Linked DNA regions of Homo sapiens. The protein of the gene in region 1 interacts with the protein of each later gene in a pairwise test. Each region holds a gene or a part of one and is shown on either strand. Other genes may lie near its edges.

What was found. Proteins that work in one complex are often made in the same cells at the same time.
Region 2: the proteins of KMT2E (region 1) and NCR2 interact in binary tests that used the Homo sapiens proteins (3 or more experiments, as listed by UniProt).
Region 3: the proteins of KMT2E (region 1) and ATP13A1 interact in binary tests that used the Homo sapiens proteins (3 or more experiments, as listed by UniProt).

Annotation. Positions count from the first base shown.
Region 1 is NC_000007.14:105,016,250-105,025,517, forward strand, and holds part of KMT2E (inactive histone-lysine N-methyltransferase 2E), read left to right. Parts: intron 1-9,268. UniProt on the Homo sapiens protein: Associates with chromatin regions downstream of transcriptional start sites of active genes and thus regulates gene transcription. Chromatin interaction is mediated via the binding to tri-methylated histone H3 at 'Lys-4' (H3K4me3).
Region 2 is NC_000006.12:41,329,836-41,338,607, forward strand, and holds the start of NCR2 (natural cytotoxicity triggering receptor 2 isoform 1 precursor), read left to right. Parts: upstream 1-5,772; 5' UTR 5,773-6,017; coding exon of another isoform or gene 6,018-6,041; coding exon 6,042-6,093; intron 6,094-6,251; coding exon 6,252-6,593; intron 6,594-8,772. UniProt on the Homo sapiens protein: Cytotoxicity-activating receptor that may contribute to the increased efficiency of activated natural killer (NK) cells to mediate tumor cell lysis.
Region 3 is NC_000019.10:19,653,677-19,661,809, reverse strand, and holds part of ATP13A1 (endoplasmic reticulum transmembrane helix translocase), read left to right. Parts: intron 1-1,822; coding exon 1,823-1,912; intron 1,913-2,018; coding exon 2,019-2,209; intron 2,210-4,401; coding exon 4,402-4,474; intron 4,475-4,660; coding exon 4,661-4,816; intron 4,817-4,893; coding exon 4,894-4,963; intron 4,964-5,043; coding exon 5,044-5,150; intron 5,151-5,626; coding exon 5,627-5,756; intron 5,757-5,876; coding exon 5,877-5,932; intron 5,933-6,155; coding exon 6,156-6,282; intron 6,283-6,356; coding exon 6,357-6,494; intron 6,495-6,570; coding exon 6,571-6,691; intron 6,692-7,109; coding exon 7,110-7,267; intron 7,268-7,665; coding exon 7,666-7,841; intron 7,842-7,915; coding exon 7,916-8,026; intron 8,027-8,133. UniProt on the Homo sapiens protein: Endoplasmic reticulum translocase required to remove mitochondrial transmembrane proteins mistargeted to the endoplasmic reticulum.

The DNA of each region.
Region 1 (9,268 bases):
TTTTGCCATCCATTTTTCCCATGTATTTAAGCTTTCCTTAAGAATTTTCAAAGTTTATTGTGTATTTGGTAAAGTGAAGCTTCATGCTGCCTTTAACAATCGTCTTACAGCATACTATCATCATTATGTAAGTTAAAAGTAAGGCTCCGATTCTGGATTTTTTTCCTCTTCAAATATGCCCATTTACCTATTATAGGATTGTGGAATTTAGTCTGTTTTAATAGACCTTAAATAAAAACATTACCATAATAGGGTCTTGAATCCATTTTATGCTATTTTCAGAAACTTACAGACTGAGACTGAAAATTAAATGGTGTCAGGTGTCATTTAACTGAATTTTTTAAAGTGTGAAAGATTAGAATTCACTTTCGTAGTGGGAGTTCTTTTTGGGTTGAACTAAGCAGTGAGATGTGAGTGGGCCATTAATGACATTTAATGACCATTCTGATTGTGGAGCAACGGAAAGATGAGTGCTTTTCAATCCAGTAGTACTTTAAAAGGTTGAAGAGTATACACTGTTTCATGATTCTTTTATTCCATTGTAAATATTTTAGAGCAGCATTTACTTCATATGGTGACTGTATCAACTAGGTTGATAAGGTTCTAGCCTACGAAATAATTAGAGAAATAACTGGCTCAAGGATTTTCTACATACCAGTGAGCTTCATCATGGAAGACTGAGCACACAACCTTACTTAGAATATTTGAAATATTTTATTATAAAGTGAAATGTTGGTGGGTAGTGGGCGAAATTTGTGTAGGGTTTTGGGGTCAGTACTCATTTGTATTTTGATCTGAGCAAGTATTTAAGTCCAGATCATTCACTGCTGTGTAAAGATTGTGCATTTATTTTAAAGGCTGGGTGATTAAGGTCTGTGGTTCAGAAGCTTGGTACTTTAAACTTACTATTCAATATACAAAATCAGTGTATTCTTAAAAATTTGATTTATGTGGCCATAGGAGGGAACACTGCCTGTGCCCGATGGTTTTCTTCATAGAGACCTTGGTCAGGTCTAGACAGACAAAGCAATTGAACTTATTTGGCTTCAAATGAAAAATACCAAGTTAGAAATTATAGGAAAAGCTGTCTTCAGTTTACTAGCTTTCTTCATATTGGCTTGCTTTATTGCTTTAGGTTTTGTTTCTTTTTGGTGGTGGTGGTGGGTGGTTTTTTTTTGTTTTTTGTTTTTTTTTTTGATGTTTTAGTTCCTGTAAAATGATACTGGCTTTTTTTTTTTTTAAGTATTGTACCTTATTTTGAATGGTTACTTTATAAATCACGAGGCTATAATTGTTTGTTTTTTGTTAATTTACTATGTGTGTTTTAAGTTAGGATTGTCTAGGCAAATTTATTAGAAGGTTAGGCATAATTTTTGTTCCCAGAGAGTTTTGAAAGAATTTGGTTCCTTGGGGGAAACTAGTCAAATGGTCTTTGTTCTAGGATAGCTGAGTTTGAAGGATTAGTTGTTTATCTGTTTAAGTGGATTTGTAGAGAACTATAATGTAATTGGAGAGTTAATTTTATTTTTAGAGCCTACATTTTGATCATACATCCTTTCGTTGTCAGTGTAAATGAAAGGATCTCTCTGATTCCAGTTTAAGTGTAGAGCCTTGACAGGTCTCCATTTCCCGTCAACTCTGTAAGACTGATAACTGCCCTACAATTTTGGCTCGTCTGACTTCCTCACAGCTTCCAGAGAGAAATCATTGCCATATATGCCCCCAGTAAGCTCTAGGACTTCTTGAGTCTATTGAGGCAGTAGGGAGAAAAGCTAATTAATAGGAGAAAAATTTCCCCTCAGTACATATCTTAGTGGTCTTAGGGAAATTATAATTTCTTAAATTGGCTTCTTAATTTCCAAGAATAATGTACTCGTTTTCATTCATCAATCTTCTAAAGAAACCTGTGGTTTAATTTTTAAAGGTGTGTTTTATGTAAACCCTAACAGCTCTGCATTTCTGGAAGCTACTACTACTGGGACTTAAATGTGTACAACCATAGTGTGTTTAAAATGTGTAAAACTAACAGAACTTTGAAGAGCTATCAAAACTGGTTAGGAAATACTAGTATGCAGTTTTCTCAACAGATGCTATTTTATGTTTACTATTTTAAAAATATTTTAATAATGTGTAAAAGCTTTTATCTCCAAAGGATTTGTTTTTAGCAGATGGTAGGTGCTTAATTATTTCTTGGATGTGAATCTTTTATTGAAGCAAACACATTTACATCTCAAATATGTAGGGTGATCAGGGACTGTTCCCTGTTATGTGTTAGAATAAATGTTAAATACTTGTATTCTGTGAGACTTGTTTCCCCCAATTTCATGATAGATTATCTATGAGACTTTTTAATATTGAAAATATAATTATTTTATGGTAAAATTAATTTTTATGTTGACTGGCAAATTAACGAGTGGAATACTATTTGAAATATTACTCTGTGAATGTTACTGGCTTTTAGGCTGGGTTTAAAATTGAAGTGGCTCGTATTTACTACCTGTTCTGTAATGTGCAGATGTTGGGAGGAGCCTTATTTTTTTCTTGACATTGAAAGAATAATTTTTTGTATTACCTACAAATTTACTTAACATGGAGGAACAGTATTTGTTGTTGAAATTGTTTTCTACACTAAACTGGAAGTGGATGGTATTTAACTAAAAATCTTGCAATTGCTATTAAACAATGAGTATTTTGCATTATATAAAATAAACAGTATTTTACTTTGTATAATATAAAATGAGTATTTTACTTTATATAAAATACTCTGTTTAATAGCAATTGCAATATTTTTAATAGCAATTGCAAGAGATAAGAATTAACCATATTATGATGCAAACAAATTGTTTTTTTGTTATTGTGAACTTCCATGCTAAGTGCTACATTAAAAATCAAATGAAGGTGACCCAGAGTAAGTTAATTAGATTTTAATTCATATCTTTAAGGATAAAAGAAGTTTTTATTAACCATTGGTAACTAGGATGCTTTTTACTTAAATCAGAGTCAGGAAAAGCAGTTGGTCTTATATTTCACGAGATAACATGTTTTCACTTGATATGAAATCAGTTCTTTTTTTCCCTCATGAACAGCTCATAATTGGATTTTATTTTTGGACAGAAAAACTTTTTTTATTGTTAGGTGAATTTTACAGTTTTATTGGAAATCTCGTTTGGTTATTTACCAAAACTATTTAAGCTTTTTGGGATGTTGGACATTTTCAATGCAACAGGTCAACAAAGAATTCTTTTTTGATGTGTTGCATTAAGATGCCATCAAAACAGACACTACGTCTTTTAATGAGTAAATAATTAACCTATAATATGTGTAAACTACTTGTTCATCATTTTTAATTAAAATATTTTGTATTTCAAAACTGTTTCAAATATGAAATCTGGGTTTAGAAAGGATCTGCATGCAGGTCAACGTGATAAGCAATGATCTATGTAGCTTTATTTTTACGACAATTGGACAGAGGTAATTTCTTAGCACCTCTTAGGCTGCTTAATTTAGAGTTAATCCAAAGGAAGAAACATTCCTTCAGAAGACTAGGACATATCAGATATTAATTATTAAAAATAGGCTGGGCACGGTGGCTCATACCTGTAATTTCACTACTTTGGGAGGCCGAGGCAGGCGGATCATTTGAGGTCAGGAGTTTGAGACCAGTCTGGCCAACATGGTGAAACCCCATTTCTACTAAAAATTACAAAAATTAGCCGGGCGTGGTGGCAGGTGCCTGCAATCCTACCTACTCAGGAGGGCGAGGCAGGAGAATTGCTTGAACCCAGGAGGCGGAGGTTGCAGTGAGCCGAGATTGTGCCACTGTACTTCAGCCTGGGCGATAGAGTGAGACTCTGTCTCAAAAAAAAAAAAAAAGTAAATAAGTAAATTAAAAAAAAAAATTCTTGGTCCTGAATTTTAATATTGAGAAAGATGATATTGTGTAATCACACCTGTGTAATAGCCAACTTGGTTGCAGCATTTAAGGTCATGCCTGTCTAGCATACGATAGTGGATTGAGTTAGTTTTGGTTTGTGGTACTTACAACTTTAAAGTTCACTTGGCCTGGCATGGTGGCTCACGCTTGTAATCCCAGCACTTTGGGAGGCTGAGGCAGGTGGATCACCTGAGCTCAGGAGTTCAAGACCAGCCTGGCCAACATGGTGAAACCCCATCTCTGCTACAAAAATTAGCTGGGCTTGGTGGCGGGTGCCTGTAATCCCAGCTACTTGGGAGGCTGAGGCAGGAGAATTGCTTGGACCTGGGAGGCGGAGGTTGCAGTGAGCTGAGATCGTGCCAGTGCACTTCAGCCTGGGCAACGAGCGAAACTGCATCTCTAAAAAAATAAATAAAGTTTATGTAATTATGCTGTCTCATGTTTTATCTGAGACCAAAAATGTTTAAATTTTTTCATTTATGTTGACTTTTGTTTTCATAGGGTATTTAAAATAATTTCCATTTAAAGTCTTAAAAATTTACACTTATAAATTATTTTAAACTTATTTGAGTTAAATAAGCTTAAAGATTAAATATCTTTTCCTTACCGTTTGGCCTAAGATGAAGCCTAGTGTCAGTGGTTTTTAGTAAAAAGTGAGGAATATGGTGAAAAGAAAAGAATTAACCATTACCACTTAGGATATTGTCAGGGAAACATAGTTTGGGTCTTTCAGAGAATGTGTATGAGAAACATACACTCTTCTAATATTTTTGTTTTCTTATTTCAGAGACTAATATATGTAATCGTTTCTATTTTTGAGTTTACAGAGAGATATCTCCAGTTCCTCTTACCATCTTGCTTTATGTAACATTTAAAGAAAGACAGCGTTCAGGAATTTGAAAACCCCATTTCCTCTTTAATGAAGTGGCTGAGATGGGAAGATTCATGATGTGACTAATTTGAATGGTTAGGACTGTGGTCCAGTAGCCATAAATAGGGGTCTCAGGTTGGTCTGATACATAGTAACTCTTACCCAGAAAATAAGTCTCTGCTTCTTCTCTTTAAATGAAGTTGCTTAATTGGTTGCCTTGACACAGGCTTATTACATCTTACATCATTAAGCCTTCGCTGTAACAATATTTTTGAAGCACAGACAAAAGATGAATTTGAGTAGCTATTATTTTCCTGGCACCACAGATGCAGAGAGAGATGAGACTGTCCCTGCTTTGAGAGAACCCGTAGTTTATTTCACCTTCTTAAAAGCCTGCTGTTTTAGAGTTTTTTGGATGCAAGGAACAGAAATCAGCTCTAGCTAGCTTAAATAAAGGATTTGTTATAAGGCTATAGGGAAATCTCACATAATTTATTTGAAGAAAGTACAGATGGGCCTCACAGGAATTGGCAAGGTGTCAAAGAGCCACTATTCACCATCTTGATCCCCTCTAATTATCTGAGACTAGTTAGAGAGATGGTGGTGGGGTGGGTGTTCATGGTTTGTAGAGTGGCGTTTCTCAGAGTAAAGCAAGAGAAAGACACGTTTAATTCTCCTGAAAACAATTACCTTTTTCCAGGAATGTTCAAAGGTACTTGGGAGGGCTTCCAAAACTAAATAATTGATATATCACACTGATGATTCAATTTTTAATTAAAAAATTGCCACACACACATGATGAGGAATGCTAAAAAACCAAGATATTTTTGGTTTTAACTTAAAAATAATGTAAAATTTACTGAAAATTTACTTGAATAGTACAAATAACTCTCTTATACTGTGTACCAAGATCACCGGACTTGTGACATTTTGCTGTTTGCTTTATTATTCTCTTTATATATACACCTGGTATTTTTCCTGAACCATTTGAGAGTGGGTTTCATTGCCAGTAGTACTAGCCCCCTTACAGCCCTTATTACTGAAGTATGCATTTCCTAAGAACACGCATGTTTTCCTAAGTAACAGAGTAGTTGTCAAATTCAGGAAATTTAACATTGATGTAATACTAAATAGTCCATATTCTAGTTTTATCAGTTGTCCCTATTATGTCCTTTATTAGCATTTTTTTCAGTACCATTAGCCGATCCAAGATCACAGATTGCATTTAGTTTTGTTGTCCCTTAAGTCTCTTTTAATCTGGAACAGTTCCTCCATCTTTGTCTTTCATGACATTGGAAGGCTTATTATTTATATATTGCTCCTCAGTTTGGCTTGGTCTTAAGGTTTCTTCATTATTCAGGTTATACATTTTTGGCTAGAATACTAGATTAGAAATATGTGTTTTTCTATCGTCTGGAGGCATATGATGTTTGTTTGCCCTTTACTATTATGTTCATTTTGATAGCTTAGTTAAGGTGTTGAGTAGTTTCTCTATTGTATAGTTGATGTTTTTTTGACATTACTAATTAATTTTTGGGGAAATACTTTGAGATTGTATAAATATCCACTTCCTCATTAAACTTTCCTCTTCAAGATGTAGCGTCTGTTGATGATTCTTGCCTAAATAAAGTTTTTACTGTGTTGGTTGTAAATACACGAAGGTTTTTCTTTTCTTTTGCTTAATTAAAAAAACTAATTTTCTTCTTTTCTTTACTTGGGTACATACATACACATATACACCAGGGTTTTTAACTGATTTGTTTCTGGATAGTTGGGATTGTGGGAGTTTCGTTTTCTTGTTTTTTCTTTTCCAGTTTTTCTGTAAGGCATATGGGCTGCTTTTTAAATCACAACAAATAAAATAAATTTTAAGGAAGAAAAGTATAGATAAGATAGACAGTAGTATATGTATAATATTCCTGTACAGTTTTCCACCGAAATGGGATTTAAATAGTTTCCTGGATGCTGATCTAATTTGAAATCCAGAACACACACACAAAAGATGTGCTTCTAGTTCCTTATTTAGTCTTTAAAACTATTGCTAAATGAGTCTTGAGTTACAGTTGTATTGTTTAGGCTTATGATTTGCTAATGCCAGCAGCTTAATTTCTAAGGGCCAAAAACATCTTCCAATTTTGATACTCCCCTTTCTCCAATAAAAAAATCCATTACCCCGTCTCTACTAAAAATACAAAAAATTAGCTGGGCGTGGTGGCGGGCCCCTGTAATCCCAGCTACTTGGGAGGCTGGGGCAGGACAATCGCTTGAACCTGGGAGGCAGAGGTTGCAGTGAGCTGAGATTGCACCATTGTACTCCAGCCTGGGTGACAAGAGTGAGACTCTGTCTCAAAAAAAAAAAAAAAAAAAAGAGAGACAAAAATTCATTAAGCAATTTTTTTTTTTTTTTTGAGATGGAGTGTCGCTCTGTCGCCCAGGCTGGAGTGCAGTGGTGTGATCTCCACCCACTGCAAGCTCCGCCTTCCGGGTTCATGCCATTCTCCTGCCTCAGCCTCCCTAGTAGCAGGGACTACAGGTGCCCACCAGCAGGCCTGGCTAATTTTTTTGTATTTTTAGTAGAGATGGGGTTTTACTATGTTAGGCAAGATGGTCTGGATCTCCTGACCTTGTGATCCACCCACCTTGGCCTTCCAAAGTGCTGGGATTACAGGCTTGAGCCACTGTGCCCGGCTCCGTTAAGCAATTTTTAAAAAGTAAAATATTTTTTGGAAAACATTAAGATAGGTTATTTTTCACATACATGCAAATTAATGCTTTTTAAAAGGGGGTTGGTGAGATGGTATATACACAGATGGTAATACAGCAGAGCATGAAACATCTGTAATTCTAGGGCAAAGCGGTATATGGTTTCTAGAACTTTGTAGTTAAAGAAATATATACTCAGAAAGGTTAAGAAGGACAAGTAAAGGAAAAGAAACAGAAAAACACTTAGACTTTCATTACATTATGATAATACTCATCAGTTTTATGTATTTTCAGTTATAGCAAAATGTTGGTAGTGAATTTGGATGATAATTTAATTTCTTTGGAAATTTTCAGACAGGAGAAGAAAATTTTGAGACTTACAGAGTACATATTCTCTAAAACTTAAAATTTTCTTCTGAGAAAATTAAGATAATCATATTTCACAACAATGAAGATTAATGAAATACAGTGGATACTTAGCATTTGGTAGGTGCTTTAAAAAATAATTTGAATTGACTGTGTGCCAATATGTCTTAACAGATTGATGGAAGTTCAGTTTGTAGTACTACTAAGTCTTAATTCGGTGTTTAAACAAAAGGTATGGCGGAAGGTACAAAAACAAGCCCCATGATGAACGAAAGGATTTTCTTTCAGGCCAGAACTCCCATCCTGGACGTGTAAAGGAGTACCTTAATTGACTGAAGTTAAGAATCTACATTTAGAATTGACTTAAGAGAACTCTTTGTTATTTTTTTCTCACTGTGGCTCAAGGACCTCATGTATCAATTATATTAAAATGAACATTCTCAGACCAATCAAGTTTTTAGAGTAGGGCCTTGAATTTGCATTTTAGTACTGGCTCCAGCTCATTTTTATATTCCAGTTCTCTGCTTTTATTTTATAAGGAGATTGAGCTCCAGAGAGTTTAAATGATTTTCCCAAGGTCGTAAAGTTACATAGTGGTTAATCAAGGTTTAAAATTTAGGTCCTGATTCTTGGTGCTTTATACTTTTCCAAGAAATCATGCTGGACATTTCTTTTTAAAAGGCAGGCCACTATTTTCAGAGTCTGAAATAAGCAAATACTGGTCTTTGTACAGTGTCAAATGACAGACTCTCTGTCTACTGCTTGTGTATATTCCAGTTCAAGATGATTCATTGGTTTCCAGAACCTATAGGCTATTTGGATAAGGAGCTTGAATTAAAATCACAGCAGTACAAATTGGGATCAAGTTGTGGTTGAGCCTTGAATGCCAGATTAAAAGCATGTGTACTTAAGAGGAGTGCTACTGAAAAATTTGCACTGGAGAATGACATGTGGAACGTGGCTTATTTACCTCCAATTCTTAAGATGTAAAAGTAACATATGTTTATTAAAAGGACTCAAAACAGTACTTCTTTAGAAGCTGTATTGTATAGAGTAGAGATTCCAGAACCATACCACTTTGGTTTGATTGCACTCAAACCAGGTTGTACTTCTTTGGGCAATGTTTTCTACCTCTTTGTGCTTTTGTTTCTTGGTCTGCAAAATGGAGATAATAATAGAGCCTATTTCATAGTGTGGTTTTGAGAATTCAGTAAGTTAATTTGGGTAAAATTCTTAGAAGCTCTGTAGCCTTTTCTGTGATAGTTGTTTCTGGAAAAAAGTAAAAAAGTAAATCTCTGACTTCTGTGTGTAAGGTCTATCATATGCTAAGGTGATCACTATTTATAGTTTATGTATTTTTTTCTAAAATGTTTTATGTAGGTACTATAGATGTT
Region 2 (8,772 bases), on another chromosome or scaffold:
TAAAAATACAAAAACAAAATTAGCCAGGCATGGTGGCAGGCCCTGTAGTCCAAGCTACTCAGGAGGCTGAGGCGGGAGAATGGTGTGAACCCGGGAGGCAGAGCTTGCAGTGAGCTGAGATCACGCCACTGCACTCCAGCCTGAGCGACAGAGCGAGACTCCGTCTCAAAAAAAAAAAAAAAGGACTAAGAGAGTAGATCTTAAATGTTTACACCACAAAAAAAGATAAGTATGTGAGGTGATGGATATGTTAAATCAGCGTGATTTAATCATTCCACCATGTATACATATATCCAAGCATCTTGTAATACACTAAAAATATACAATTTTTATTGGTCAGTTATACCTTACTAAAGCTGGGTAAAGGAACAAACATTGCAACAGACTACAGATAAAGTTCCCTTCACCACTTCTTCCCCAACATTCATCATAGTTATTGCCCCAAAAGACTGCTATTATTAGTTTGATGTATAGCTTTTCACAAACAGAAAATTTCTGTGTTTGTACAGATAAGAGGTTTATGTGCACAGACAAACCATTTTGAGTTCAGTTTACTGTATATAAGTGGGATTATACCATACATGTCATTCTGCAGCAATTATTAAATTTAACAAGATGTTTGGAGATCTAGCTACATTTGCACACAAGCTGTATTCTTTTTTAACCTTTACATGGTGCTGTATAGAAGACGTGGACCAGAAGTTATGTTATTAATTCCCCTGTGGAGATCATTATTATAAACAATCAGTGATGAGCGTCTTTGTAAATCTCCTTTTGTGCCTGTGTGTGTATTTCTCAAGGATGGGTGAATCCTTGAAATGGAATTGACAAGTCAAGGAATGCACATATTAAACATCTTAGATCCTTATTATTTGCATTCAGAAATGCTGAACAGTTTCTATTCCCACTTTGAACATAACACCCACTTCTCCACACCCTTGCCAAGAGAGTAGGACAAGCTTTTAAAATATTTGTCAAATTAATGAATAAATATTGCAATTTGTTTTAATCTGTAAATATCTGATGAATAAGGAGATAAGACATTCTTGCAAATATCTCTGAGAATGTTTATTTCAATTATTGAAAGTTGCTCATCCATTTCATGAATTATTGACATTAATTCTAAATTCAGGTGTTCTGTGTGCTTGTATTGATGGTTTACCTTCATGCTATTAATTTTTCTCAAATGTATGAGATACTTGATTGTCAAATAGTATTAATGCATAGATGAATTGAGGGAATATTCTCATGTTGGTATTTTGAGCTGTTGAGGCTTCTACTTCTGACATTCTAATTTTTCTTATTTTGTTTTTAACACTCGGAAATCAAACGTATCGGTGGCCACTTTTCTTGTTTAACTTGGATTTATCTTTTTTTTATTTATTTATTTTCTTCCATTTACAAAGATAGGGGGCTGGAAGAGAGAATGCCAGGGGGTCCAGTGGGCCACACCGACCCTTTCTTCCCTCCATGTTCCCCGTTAGAATCTAAGCACAGAAGGAAGAAGGCCTACTTTTCCAGACAGTAGGGCCTTCTCTTGGCTTGCAGAAGTGCATTTGAAATGGAGGTGGCAGAGATGGGATACCACACCGGGCCAGGCCTTGTGGAACCTGCAATGCATTCCCTGCAGAGTGATCTCCAGTAGGCTTCGGAGAGAGTAAGGGCTGGGGCCCTGTCAAGATGCTGCACAGGGAGAATTCCCCCAGGAGCTGTCCACAGGAGCCCCTGAGAAGGTGGAGGCTGAAGGGAGGAGTCAGCTAAGGGCAGATGTGCAGATACGTGTTTGAGCTGGGCAGCCTGAACTTGGCAGAACAGAGCGGGGACAGAGGGGAGCCGGAGCTGGCCGTGGTGGTGACTGAGTGATTTAGGGAAATTAAAGCAAGAGGGGAGATCATGGAGGAGGAAGATTCTCAGGTTGGGCAAAGAGGCTGAACTGGGTTTGGTCTCCCCTGTTTGGGGCGTTGGATCAGATGCACAGGGAGTGTTCCAGAGGGGCTGGGGACAGCAATGTGGGAGGGTCCCACCACAGCAGGGATTTAGGTACTGGTAGGTGTCTTCTGCAGGCACTGGATGGCCCCTTCCTTACTCATTATCTCAGCTGTCCCAGAGTGGCAAGAGCTGAGCATCGCCCCTCGGCCTGTGCTGAGCTGAAGCCTTCAGAGACCTCCATAGCTGCTGCCCCCAGGGTGTTCGTGAAGTGTGTGCACCGCCTGGCCCTGCTCCTCTCCAGGACTGCCCTTCTCCAGCTCTGTCACCCCCTAACTTGGGGCTGGTTTCTATGGAGCAGAGTGGTCTGCTGAAGGAGGGAGTGCTGAAGGAGGGAGTGAGTGTCTGTGTGAGTGTGGGTGCACTTGGGTGAGGGCCTGAGAGTTTAAAGGCAAGGATCTTGATTGGCCTGTAATAAGCAAATGAGCAAACAGAGATGACGGCCAAAGGATATTGAAATCGATGTTAAACATAATTTTCTAACCCTACCCCTGATTTTTGTCTCATCTTCTGAGGCTGACCACCTTTACCAGCACAGCTGTCCCCACTGTGCTCCATTTCGCTCCTCCTCTCTGGCCCCAGGCCAAACCCAGCCATACTCCCCCTGCTCCAGCCTGCAGCTCGGGAGCACATGAAGGGCTGACAGCACCAGGCAGCACAGAGACCGGGGCCCTGGGGGCGGCTGAACGGGGTGAGGGGGTTGGAGGATGGGGTTGGTTCCATGGAGTAAGGAAGGAGAAGAAGCAGGGAGAACCCAGCTGGGGAGATGGCTGCTTCCTGCACTCCCTGAGCCCAGGCCTCCCGCAGGGTGCTTAGGGTGGAAGCCTGGTTCTGTGCCTGACCCACCCTGAACTTCCTGTGAGGGAGCTGTGCGCCCAGACTGCAGCCTTGTGTGGGCAGTAGCTCAGGTCCCTCTGACCTCTCTGGCAGGGAAAAAGCTGCTCTGAGACCAGATGCTTTGAACCTGGCATCCTGGGACCAGGAAGGGCCATTGTTATGGGACCATTGTCATGGGAGCAGGAATAACCCTGTCAGGGCAATTGATGACTGAAGGATCCTGCTGGAGCTGGGGCAGAGAGCCATTGGGGTCAGAGGTATAAGCAGACTTGTTGGGGTTCAGGGAGAAGACTCCTTGGATCTGCAAAAGGCAAGCCTGGATGAAGAGTAAGGAAGTGCCCATGGAGAATCTCTGAGCCCAGGAGGAGCACCAGGTCAGGAGAGAGGAGGCCTGGGTGCTAGTCCTGGTTTGGCCCTGAAATAGCTGAGTGACTGTGGAAAGGCTACTTGCCTTCTCTGGACCTCATCTCCCTCAGTTGTGAAATCAGCACTGAGAGAAATTCCCTTTTGTCCCTGCTACTTCTGGTTCTATCATGGGGGAAATTTACAGCTACCCCTTCACCCCTGCCCAGCCTAGCTTAGCCCTGTGCTGCGTTTTGGGGATCACCTCCAGACCTCTACGGCTCCCTGCTTTCCCCATTTCTGCATCAGAGGCCAGCCCTCCCTTCCCATGGACCTACCCAGGCTCGGAGCCACTGTTGCAGGCTAGACTGGGCCTTGCTAGAAAAGCAAGTACATGAAGTCTCCAGCTCTCCCAGCTCCTTCTCTGGGTTCCTGTGAGTGTGTGTGACAATGAGTTTGGGAGAGGAGGTTGCTGAGGTTCCCAAGTTCTCTGAGGGACCTTCTCAGAGGGTGGGCAGGGAACCCAGAATCCCCCAGAACCCCAGGCTCTTTGACAGGACTTTGCTGTGCCCTGCTCTGATCGTGCCAAGGGGGAGGCACTATCCCTAGCTCTTCAAGAGACTTCTGAAAGGGCCCCAGATCCCACCACAGCTACCTGCCCCAGTCCCTCCTGCAGAAATTCAACTTGTGACAAGGGCTGTTGTGGGTCCCCAGGGAGCAGGGCCAGTCCCAGCCTGGATGAGGGGCTGCCTAAGCCCAGGCTTCCCTGCCCCCAGGTCCCAGATGCCAGAGGAAGCTGAGCGTGCAGATGGTTCCAGCAGGGGCCTCCCCCTAGGGTGCTCAAGGCCCCAAGTCTATGTGGAGGGTGCCCACCCCACTCACACAGGTGGGGAAGCCACAACACAGAGAGAGGGGCAGATTCCCCGCTTTGAGAGCTCCTGTCCCCTGGGGAGAGACGACACACTCTGACACAGCAGAGAACGATACAGAGCTGGCTGCAGGCTGAAGAGACACACAGCTAGTGGCACATAGCAAGGGGTGCTCTTGTAAGCTACAAGAAGGAGCTGTCACTTAGAGTCAGCAGGGGTCAGAGAAGGGGAAAGTCAGCATGGGAACACAGTTGCTGACACACACACACACACACACACACACACACACACACACACGGTGACGTGCCTCGGTGCCATCTGAGGACAGGGCCGCCTTCCTCCCCCTCGGGAGGATGCCCCCACCCTGATTTGGTATGTAATTATGTTCAGGGAGAAGCTGGGCCCCACTGTCGGCGAGGAAACCCCCTAAAAGCTCACCTCCGCCTGTGTGTGCAATTCAGTGGGAGCCTCTTTCTCACCCCTGGTTTCCTGTCATGTCTGTGGGTCGCATTTCAACCAGACCAGCCGGAAGGCTCCAGACCGAAGTCAGGAGGCCTGTTCTGGTCCTGTGTGACTCTGAGCAGGTGGCTGACCATATCTGGGCCTCAGTTCTCACATCTGTGAAAAAGAGAAGTAATGTCTCCCTCGCGAACCTGCTGAGGGTCTTGAGAAAGTGTGCATGAGAATGCTTTGTAAATAATGCTTGTGTGAGTGAGTGGCGGGCATCGCTCCCTGAGCTGTCTTCTAGCTCTGGAGCTCCAGCCTGCTTTCCCACCTTGGGCCCTTGGGCGCCAACATCTGATAGCCCTACTGTGTCCTCCTTTTGCATACCCCTCTGCCTTTCCCATTCTCAGTCTCTGCATACTCCTACTGTAAGGAGAAGGGCAGTGTACTGAGATGGAGTGGAGAGCAGGAGTCCAGGGGCAGGCAAAGCAGTGGACTTGGAATCGAGTCCACTTGACAAGTTCCAATTCCCGTCTCAGTTATTACCTCTGTTCACAGAGCTCCCGGCAGCAGATCGCCAGTCCAGCAGAGCCCCCAGTGGTGCAACTGCAATTACACACAGTGTCTCTACCAGTCCTAAGATATATTAGCTCGTTCTCTTTGTAAATTGCATCGTATTTTAAAACTGAATCTTCAAAGTGCTGACATTAACTAAAGAAAAATATGCTAGAGTCTTTCATCTGTTTATGTTTTAATTAAACAATATTTCTCCAGGGTCCTTAAGTGGCAGAGGTCCAGGATGCAGAGATGAGGCCAGGTCCTGGTTCCTGGGCTCCCTCTACCCCACCCCACTGATGCATCCCATGCTCCGTGTGCTCTTCCCACCCTCCCCTCCCCGACCTTTGCCAGGGACCCTCCCTAGCCTCCCTTGCTGGTTTTGAATCTCCACCTCCTCTCCCCTCTCCTTTCCCGCACCCACGAAACTCCCAGAGTGGAAGCACATCACTGACCCACCATGGAGGCCTGGGCATGACGTCCCTGGCCATCCTGTGACCAGTGAGGCTTGGGGCTTGTGATCAGGGTTCCAAGTGCCCCTGAGTTTGTCATCCACCCTCAGCCTGCCTTTCCCTGGAAAGGGCGGCAAAGCTAGGGCCCTGCAAAGAAGAGAGGCAGCACACAGAGGGAGCAAGGGGGAAGCAGTCCATAACTCGCCCACAGTTTCCTCCTGGCCTTTTCAGCTCCTCCCTCAGGGGTAGGTCATGGTGGGGAGGGGCAGCTGGGCACAGGGGAGAGCAGGCATCTTCTACAGAGGCCTGGGAAGCTGTGTGCCAGACAGCGCCGAGCCCACCAGACCCAGACTCACCTACAGCTGGAGATCCCCACTTCCCTGTGCCCACAGAATCTGCCCTTTGCAGTCTCCCATCTCCCCAACCCAGGCCTCAGCCTGTCTCATTTTTCTATCAGACGTGCTGGAAGAGCAGCAGAATCAGGCCCAGCTCCCAATTCCCTCTCCCCAGTCTTCTCCAGGTGTCCCCTCCCATGAGCGCACAGGAAAAGGACCACATGGCCTGGCGAGCCCTACACCCACTGCTACTGCTGCTGCTGCTGTTCCCAGGTGAGGGGGAGGAGGAGCCCAGGGAGCAGAGGAGATGGGTGTGGTGGGGACTGTCAGGACAGCAGGGTCAGGGAGCAGGTGGCTCTGTGGCCAGAGGCCTGCTGTGAGGCAGGTTGTGCGCGTGGCCTTGACCTATGCGTTACTTCATCATTCTCCAGGCTCTCAGGCACAATCCAAGGCTCAGGTACTTCAAAGTGTGGCAGGGCAGACGCTAACCGTGAGATGCCAGTACCCGCCCACGGGCAGTCTCTACGAGAAGAAAGGCTGGTGTAAGGAGGCTTCAGCACTTGTGTGCATCAGGTTAGTCACCAGCTCCAAGCCCAGGACGATGGCTTGGACCTCTCGATTCACAATCTGGGACGACCCTGATGCTGGCTTCTTCACTGTCACCATGACTGATCTGAGAGAGGAAGACTCAGGACATTACTGGTGTAGAATCTACCGCCCTTCTGACAACTCTGTCTCTAAGTCCGTCAGATTCTATCTGGTGGTATCTCCAGGTGAGCTCTTTCCCTAGGGTCCTCAGAGGGGTGCCCCTCACCCCCTTTTGGTGCCTCCATCACCCCTGGTTTCCCAATCGTGGAAGCCACCCATGCCCACGCCCCAGTCTCCTGGGAAGGCTGTTGGGAACAGGTGCAGGGGGAACTCATATGTGCACAAGAGCAGCCATCTCACAGTCTGCATGACTCCCAAGCCTGCAGCCTGGGCCTCCTGAGAGATGCTGAAACAGACCCGGTGAGCATGCTGACCAGTCAGCCTATATGACCCTGCTACAGGAGGGCAGGACCACCCGGCATCTTTGGTACATAGTAGGTGCCCAGGAAAGGTGCATCCACTGGCTGCCCCCACCATGTAGAGCCAGTGGTATCTGGGTAGTCTAGATACCAAGATACTATGGGTATCCCTCATAGTCCAGATCGGGGACTAAGAATGAGTGAAAAAAACTAAGAATGAGTGAAAAAAAATCAAAAGAAAAACAATATTTTGTGACATACAGGAAATTCAAATTTCAGTGCCTATAAGTGGAGTTATTTTTTGGAACACAGCCATGCCCACTCAATTACCTATTGTCTGTGGCCCTTTTCATGCTGTGACAGCAAAATTGAGCAGCTGTGACAGAGACCACATGGCTCATCCCTGACCCTTTACAGAAAGTGTGCCAAACTCCTGCTCAGAGCAGAGCTACCCACAGTTCCTGTGGAAGAGGACCTTCTAAAAAAAAATCTGCAATTCACATGAGTAATTTTTTTTGTAAAATACAGTAAAAAAAAATTACTAGAAAAATAAGAAAAAGATATATAAAGTACAAGCCCAACATTTATTAAATTTGACAAACATAAAATTACATTTTAATGAATACAATCAGAACAAATATCACATAGGGAAAAATTTATAAAAACTGTATACATTGTTCATTTGAAAGTGTGCCTAAAGGTGATTGATGTAGTGGCTTAACGGTATACCCATAACGTTTTGTCATTCCTCAGTTAAAACTAAGTACAAAGCTAGAAGGGAAATTGCAGTTCTCCATATTAAATGCCAATATGCACCCTTCAAACAAACACCCTGTCTTTCCGTTTTTAAGGATTATAATGTGACAAATGAGCACTTTTCTTACTTGGTAACTTTCCTAATCTGAGAACTATTTATGACACCACATCACTTAGGAGATAATGTATAAAGAAATTGTGTTGATTTTTTTTAAAATAATACTCACAGTAGAAGCCCAGAAAACTGGTCTCACGGAGGTATAATGTCAGAAATAGAAGAAATTTTAAAGCAATTCCGACAAGCTCAACAGTTTTATATTTAACTTTTACAAAAGGAAGCAAGCGATGCTGTAATTTCAAAATGCATCTTCAATCCTTTATCAGTAGCCAGTTCCAAAACTTTATCCTAAAACTTATAGTTTAAATTATCTTTCGATGGGAAAATATGGATTCTAGATCTATGAATTTCCTCTGCATATATCTTCTTCTGACAAAAAAACGAAATTCAAAACATGCTATCAAATTATTAATGTTTTCCCATGAGCACTTGTGAAGATATGCAATATCAATATTATCACTTATTTTGTTGATAAATGTTATTAAATTAAGAACATGTCATAACAATTCATAGAAATGGTTCTTCTGACTTTTATGTTTGCACTTAGACTTTACTTGCCATTGAAAAACATGTCGCTTTACTTCCTTGCATGGAAATATTAACTTCAGAACTACAGTATAAACAAGTCTGATGGTACAATTCACATTTGTACTAAACTGGCTTCTTGTCTTAATTAGGAATTCTTCCTATAGATGAAACATGCTCAACAAAACTTTAAATTTGGCATGCAACAGTAGCTGTTTATGATCTGTTTCCATATTACCACATAATAAAGAGAATGATTTCAAATTTAATATATTCACCTTATAAAATTCACAATTCTGTCCATGTTGGTCAGCACAACGTTCAGTTAAGCTGCTTTTTTTTCATAGTAAAACTCTCTCAATGAAGGAAGCAGTGCATTAATTTAAAATCTAGCCCAAGACTTCTTAACCTGGATGACATTTTCCTGTCATTGCAACTGCAGCCATCAGAACATACTCTTACATAAAACTTAACCCCAAACCACATTTTGATAATATAACCTTCATAGTTTTATACATTCAGAGCTAGTTGTGTTTGTGACAATTA
Region 3 (8,133 bases), on another chromosome or scaffold:
CGCTTTGTTTCTGCGGGTCATCATTGTGCTCCCCCCATCTCCATGCAGCTCGTCTCCATGCAGCTCGGTCTAGCAGAGCAGCAGAGGAATGGATGGCGGTTCACGGGGTCCAGGGAGCACTGAACGAGTTCCATTCAACATTTCTGTGTCTTAGGTGCTGGGGAAACAGCAGTGAACAAAACAGGCAAATCCCCCTGCCTTTGTGGTGTTACTGGGAGGGAGAACTCATAGTCAGCAGTTGATGCCAAACAGAGATGACATCTAACATCAGGACAGGATGGGACATTGCCGGGAACTTTAGATGGGGCAGCCAGGGAGGGGCTCCTGAGAAGGTGATGTTTCAGCAAAAGCCTGAGGCAGCAAGGGAGCTGTGTGACTGTGTATTCCGGGCAGAGAAAACAGCACATGCCAAGGCCCTTTGCTGAGGCACGATCGAGCCCCATGTGCGTGTGGAGCTGTGGAGTGTAGTGAGCAGGGTTGGTGGAAGAGGCAGAGCTGAGCAGGAGGCCGGGGGCCTGTGATGGGGCGGGGGCTTGGCTCACGTGAATTGAGGACGTACTGGGTGGGTGCCTGGCAGCGTTCTTCCTATTTGAGTTCATGTCACCTTCAGCAGAGCAGAGCCCTGGGCATTAGGTGCTGTCTGTGCACCCAGCTTCCCAGCTTTTTTTGTTGTTGTTTTTGTTTTTGTTTTGTTTTTTGGGGTTTTTTTGTTTGTTTGTTTGTTTGTTTTTGAGATGGAGTCTGGCTCTGTTGCCCAGGCTGGAGTGCAGTGGCACAATCTCGGCTCACTGCAACCTCCGCCTCCCAGGTTCAAGTGATTGTTCTGCCTCAGCCTCCCGAGTAGCTGAGACTACAGGTGCCTGCCACTATGCCCAGCTAATTTTTATATTTTTAGTAGAGACGGGGTTTCACCATATTGGCCAGGCTGGTCTCAAACTCCTGACCTCGTGATCCCCCCTGCCTCAGCCTCCCAAAGTGCTGGGATTACAGGTGTGAGCCACTGCACCCAGCCTTTTTATTTTGAGACAGAGTCCTGCTCTGTCGCCCAGGCTGGAGTGCAGTGGTGCAATCTCGGCTCACTGCAAGCTCTGCCTCCTGGGTGCACGCCATTCTCCTGCCTCAGCCTCCCAAGTAGCTGGGACTACAGATGCCTGCCACCACGCCCAGCTAATTTTTTGTGTTTTTAGTAGAGATGGGGTTTCACCGTGTTAGCCAGGATGGTCTCAATCTCCTGACGTCGTGATCTGCCCACCTCGGCCTCCCAAAGTGCTGGGATTACAGGTGCGAGCCACTGTGCCTGGCTGGTTTTTTGTTTTTTTTTTTTTAATTGAGATAGGATCTCACTCTGCCACCCAGGCTGGAGTGCAGTGTTGCAATCTCAGTTCACTGCAACCTCCGCCTCCCAGTTCAAGGGATTCTCCTGCCTCAGCCTCCTAAGTAGCTGGTATTACAGGTGTGCACCACCGTGTCCGGCTCATTTGTGTATTTTTAGTTGAGACAGGGTTTCGCCACATTGGCGAGGCTGATCTCAAACTCCTGATCTCAAGTGATCCGCCCACCTTGGCCTCCCAAAGTGCTGGGATTATGGGTGTGAGTCACCGTGCCCAGCCTTGTGCTCCCAGCTTTAAGTGTGGCACCAGAGGCACAGCAAGATGGTCTCGTTTGTCCTGATGACAGACGAGGGAGTGACAGAGGCAGCACCAGAGCCCAGTGGCATTTCAGAATATACCCATAGAGCTGCTGCACCCAAAACCTCCCGGGGGGGTCTTGGAACTGTAGGTTGAGAAGAGCTAAGCCACAATGCTTTCTTTGTCTCTGTCAGGAGTACGACCCCAGCAAAGCGACCTTTGTGAAGGTGGTGCCAACCCCCAACAATGGCTCCACGGAGCTCGTGGCCCTGCACCGCAATGAGGTAGGGACTGCCTGCTGGGCTCCTGGAGGAGGGGCTTGAGTAGGATTCCCAGGCGCTGACACCCCAAGGTCAGGGGCCTCTGTGGCAAACACACCTTCTACCGCAGGGCGAAGACGGGCTTGAGGTGCTGTCCTTCGAATTCCAGAAGATCAAGTATTCCTACGATGCCCTGGAGAAGAAGCAGTTTCTCCCCGTGGCCTTTCCTGTGGGAAACGCCTTCTCATACTATCAGAGCAACAGAGGCTTCCAGGAAGACTCAGAGATCCGAGCAGCTGAGAAGAAATTTGGGAGCAACAAGTGAGTCCTTGATTTGCCTGTAGCACCTTTGCCTTTCTGTCCTGCTCCCCTCCTGATTCAGGGTGCCTAGGAAGCGGGACAGAGGCATCTGCCCTTTTATTTATTTATTTACTATTATTTTATTTTTATTTTATTTTTTATTTTTGAGACTGAGTCTCGCTCTGTCACCCAGGCTGGAGTGCAGTGACGCGATCTCAGCTCACCCCAACCTCCGCCTCCCCGGTTCAAGTGATTCTCCTGCCTCAACCTGCCAAGCAGCTGGGAATACAGGCTCCCCCCACCACGCCTGGCTAATTTTTGTATTTTTAGTAGAGATGGGGGTTTCACCATGTTGGCCAGGCTGGTCTTGAACTCCTGACCTCAGGTGATCCTCCCATGTTGGCCTCCCAAAGTGCTGGGATTACAGGCGTGAGCCACTGCACCCGGCCAAATCTGCCCTTTTAGCCAAATGTCCCAGGTGACTGTGATGCCGCTTGAGCAACATGCTCTAAGTCCAGTCTCCCCTGAACTTGCCTGCTGGCAGGAACCCCAGAGGGTCTGCAGCTGGAAGCCCGTGCCCTGGGGTGTGAGACCTTGAGTGTAAGGTTCTTCACAGGAGTCTAGCCTGTGGCCCCTCCTCAGCAACAGCTTTATTTTAAATTCTTTTAAAATGTTTATTTGTGTAGAGATGGGGTCTCGCCGTGTTGCCCAGGCTTGTCTCAAACTCCTGGCCTCAAGCAGTCCTCCTAAATCAACATCCCAAAGTGCTGGGATTACAGGCATGAGTCACTGCACCCAACCTAAACATTTCAGTCCTCACTGTTTCGAGTCTACGCATCTCAGCGCTTCAGAATGGTGATGGAAGACCGTGACCATGTCTGCCCTTTTGTACTGAGTACAATGGCCAATGTGCGGTGCACACCCTCTCCCTTCATCTTCACCAAAACTGCAAATGCTGACACGTGGCTGGGAGCCGGAGAACTGGGCTCCAAACCCCATCATGGCCTTGTTACGATGGTCCTCAACCCAGAAACCCACAGAACACCTAGGGAGCTCTTTCCTGACTTAATCACTGTTCAGAGATTACAAATATGTTGACTACAACTATCAATCTAATACAAGGATTTATAAGAAACATTTAGCAACTTCCCCTACCCCAAGGTTGGCCAGTCACATTAATGGCCTGTGGCAACTACGTTCCCTTTCATGCTGTTCTTACTCAACGCAAAGGTACCCAGCAAGATACAAGGGAAGGGCTTATTGTTTGATAGCAGTGGGGTTGCTCTTTGGTTTCCTCTTCTCACATCCCATACATAAGACGTCCATGCAGTTAAAGGGCAGAGCGAGAATGACCCTCGTTGACATGACTGGTGCCCTGATCAGATTGGACTATGGCACAGAGTACTGCAGAACACACCCTTAGGCCCAAGTCCTTGCATTCTCGAGCCTTTTTTTTTTTTTTTTTTTTTTTTGGAGACAGGGTCTTACTCTGTTACCCAGGCTGGAGTGCAGTGGTGTGATCATGGCTCACTGTAGCCTTGAACTCCTGGGCTCAAGCATTCATCCTGCCTCAGCCTCCCAAATAGCTGGGACCACAGGCACACACCACCACCCCCAGCTAATTTTTAAATTTTTTGTAAATAGAAGGTCTTGCTGTGTTGCCCAGGCTAGTCTCTGACTCCTGGGCTCAAGCACTCCTCCTGCCTCGGCCTCCCAAAGTGCTTGGGATTACAGGCGTGAACCACCCTACTCGACCCATTCTGGGGCTTTAATTCAGGAATCATAGAAAATCTCAGCTTTGGTGGGGCTGGGTCTCAGTGTCTTCTGCTGTCTGTAGCTTCAGGGCCTCCATCTTTCAATCAGAGGTTCCTTCTCTACTTGCTGTGTCACTCGACCAGATGACGGGCTCTCGTCTGACACCAGCCCCAGGCTGCCAGGAAGAGCATATTGCAGATTAAGGAGCTTCATCTGTTTTATGCAGAGCCGAGGGCTGTGGGCGGGCAGCATGTCTACCCCAGGCTCAGCCAGGATGAGGGAGAGCCACTGCCAAATGGATCCTCCTATCTGGAAGCTCGCCAGGGCTCCCGACGCCCACATATGGCTCTTGGTTTCTTGAGAGCGGCCTGCCATGCTCAGGTTGGAGGGGTCAGGGTGGAGACTCCATACCCCAGAGGCCTTGCCCTGGGAACAGGATGGGGCCTGGTCTCTTGCAGGGCCGAGATGGTGGTGCCTGACTTCTCGGAGCTTTTCAAGGAGAGAGCCACAGCCCCCTTCTTTGTATTTCAGGTAAAGCAGCAGCTCTGGCCCATCTCCCCATTTCCTCCCTTGGGGCTTTCCTAACCGGATCAAGCCTGCCCACCACTTCTAAACCTGGAAGCCTCTCCCCACCCTCACATATCAGATCCGGTGGGTGGAAGGGGCTCATGGGAACAGGGCGGGTAGGGCAAGGACAGACAGGCTGGTATCCCACAGGTGTTCTGTGTGGGGCTCTGGTGCCTGGATGAGTACTGGTACTACAGCGTCTTTACGCTATCCATGCTGGTGGCGTTCGAGGCCTCGCTGGTGCAGCAGCAGATGCGGAACATGTCGGAGATCCGGAAGATGGGCAACAAGCCCCACATGATCCAGGTGTGGCTGCCAGGGAGACCCAGGTTGGGGGTGCAGCACAGGTGCGGCTTCTGTGCTGACACCCATGCCCCGCCCAGGTCTACCGAAGCCGCAAGTGGAGGCCCATTGCCAGTGATGAGATCGTACCAGGGGACATCGTCTCCATCGGTGAGGCCGGGTTCCGCTCAGTCCCAGTGGGAGCCCCAGCCTCAGGGCCTCTGGCCAACCCTCCTGCCTCTGCCCTGCAGGCCGCTCCCCACAGGAGAACCTGGTGCCATGTGACGTGCTTCTGCTGCGAGGCCGCTGCATCGTAGACGAGGCCATGCTCACGGGGGAGTCCGTGCCACAGATGAAGGTACTTGGTGGAGGATGGGGATCCTCAAGCTGTTCAGGAGGAAACAGGCCAGGAGGTGGAGGCCCAGGGGGTGGCGGGGATCCCCCTCAGGCACAGGCGGAGGAGGCAGTGTGGGCACAGATGAGCTCTGTGGACTGGGGAGCCGGGTGGTGGGGGCGAGGAAGGAGGTGAGAGAGCCAAGGGCATCCAGGGTACATTGGTGCCCTGGGATGTCAGACCAAGGTGGGCTGGGAGCAGTCCAGAGGGGTGAGTCCCAGACGAGGCCAAGTGCAGGCCCCAGAGAGCAGGCACTGTGAGTGCAATGGGGAGAAGACAGGACGGGGTGAGGGTGAGGATCTGGGAGCTGGGTGGGATGTATTGGTCGGGTGGGGATCCCCCTGGCTCATTCCAGCCTCAAGGTCCAGCTGTCCAGGAACTCAGATGGAGAAGGAAGCAAGGTAGGCCTGGCCATCCAGATTCACGATCTTCCTCCCCAGGAGCCCATCGAAGACCTCAGCCCAGACCGGGTGCTGGACCTCCAGGCTGATTCCCGGCTGCACGTCATCTTCGGGGGCACCAAGGTGGTGCAGCACATCCCCCCACAGAAAGCCACCACGGGCCTGAAGCGTAGGTGCCTCATGGGCGTCTGGGGGTATCTGGGCTTCCACCCCCTTTGCCCGTCTGCTTGATCATGAGGGAGTCAGGACGAGGAGACAGGCATGACGGTGACTCTGCTTCTCTCCCCAGCGGTTGACAGCGGGTGCGTGGCCTACGTCCTGCGGACCGGATTCAACACATCCCAGGTGCGGGGCCAGGTCTGGGGAGGGCGGGCCCCAGGGCAGTTGGACAGCCAAGGTATCAGCCCTTTCCGACCCCAGAACATCTGCCCCACGGGCTGACTCTGGCAGCACGGCCCTGGACCTGGGCCAGGGTGCAGAGGCCACCCCAAGACCAGGCCCACGCTTCCAGGCCTGAGCTGCTGGAGGGAGTCCAGACAGCAGAAAGGCTGTTCCTCCATTCCTCCAGGGCAAGCTGCTGCGCACCATCCTCTTCGGGGTCAAGAGGGTGACTGCGAACAACCTGGAGACCTTCATCTTCATCCTCTTCCTCCTGGTGTTTGCCATCGCTGCAGCTGCCTATGTATGGATTGAAGGTAAGCGCCACGGCCTCTGTGGTCCCCTGCGCCCACCCTCCGAGGCTCCAGGTTGGCAGGCCCTGTCTCCACAGGTACCAAGGACCCCAGCCGGAACCGCTACAAGCTGTTTCTGGAGTGCACCCTGATCCTCACCTCGGTCGTGCCTCCTGAGCTGCCCATCGAGCTGTCCCTGGCCGTCAACACCTCCCTCATCGCCCTGGCCAAGCTCTGTGAGTGTGTCAAATGGGATGGGGTGCCGAGTGGGCTGGGGCCAAGCAGGACCCCTGACCTCACTCCCGCCCCTAGACATGTACTGCACAGAGCCCTTCCGGATCCCCTTTGCTGGCAAGGTCGAGGTGTGCTGCTTTGACAAGACGGGGACGTTGACCAGTGACAGCCTGGTGGTGCGCGGTGTGGCCGGGCTGAGGTAAGCATCAGGGGCCCTGCAGCAAAGGTCACCCAGATGGGGTTTCTGGGAAGTCGAGAGACAGGTGGCCCATCCACCCCAAGCCCTTGCAGTGAGGGCCCGTCAGAGGCCCTGCCTCGGGTTCATTTCCAGGGGCTCCCCACAAAGTCCTGGGTGTCAGCCATGGTAGCGGCACGGGGGCTCAGCTCAGGCCTGGAACATCCCACACCAGCCATGCACCACATGACCCCCAGGCACAATGCCTGGCTTCTGGGGGCATCTGTGAAGCAGGTGCAGGTCTCATAAAGACCCAGTTGGCGCCCAAGCCACCCCAGTGACAAGCACGGAATGAATGGCCTTGGGGGTCCTTCTGCTGGTGGGGATGCAGCTTCGCCCTACCCGCCTGCACTCTGTAACCAGCTGTTCCCCGACCTTGCAGAGACGGGAAGGAGGTGACCCCAGTGTCCAGCATCCCTGTAGAAACACACCGGGCCCTGGCCTCGTGCCACTCGCTCATGCAGCTGGACGACGGCACCCTCGTGGGTGACCCTCTAGAGAAGGCCATGCTGACGGCCGTGGACTGGACGCTGACCAAAGGTGAGGGGCTGGGGCCTCAGGCCCAGCAAGGGGGAGCCACTGGCTCTCACAGCCCTAGGCAGGTGGGCTGCACCCCTCAGAGCATCTTGGGGACAGGCAGGCCTACAGCTCTGATGCTCCCCGAGGTGGGTGGCCAGAGGCTCACTTTAGACCCAGGATAGGCCACGTCCTTGGGTGTCCCTCTGGGTTGGAATCTGCCCTGCCCTGGCCGAAGCCACAGTGCCAGGGTCCTCCAAGCCCAGGTCTTCCAGCTCTGGACCAACACCTGCTCTAGCCCAGAGCCCCGATCAGGCCCTGGGGGAGGCAGGAGGGAGGTGGGGGAGGCCGGGGTGAGAGGTAGGGGCTTGGCTGCCTCTTTGGAGCAAAGCCCCTCAGGACTCGTACTTATTTGTTTCCAGATGAGAAAGTATTCCCCCGAAGTATTAAAACTCAGGGGCTGAAAATTCACCAGCGCTTTCATTTTGCCAGTGCCCTGAAGCGAATGTCCGTGCTTGCCTCGTATGAGAAGCTGGGCTCCACCGACCTCTGCTACATCGCGGCCGTGAAGGGGGCCCCCGAAACTCTGCACTCCATGGTGAGCTGGCCCCAGCCTGGGGCAAGGGGTGGGGGCGCGGGGCAGCCCGTGACATCCCCCTGCATTCCCTGCAGTTCTCCCAGTGCCCGCCCGACTACCACCACATCCACACCGAGATCTCCCGGGAAGGAGCCCGCGTCCTGGCGCTGGGGTACAAGGAGCTGGGACACCTCACTCACCAGCAGGTACGGGCCCAGGCTCCCCCTGCCTTCACCATGTGCCTGGCCCGTCAGCTCCTCCCTGAGTCACCTCCTGTGTCCCACAGTGCCAGGTTGAATGGTTGTGATTTTGT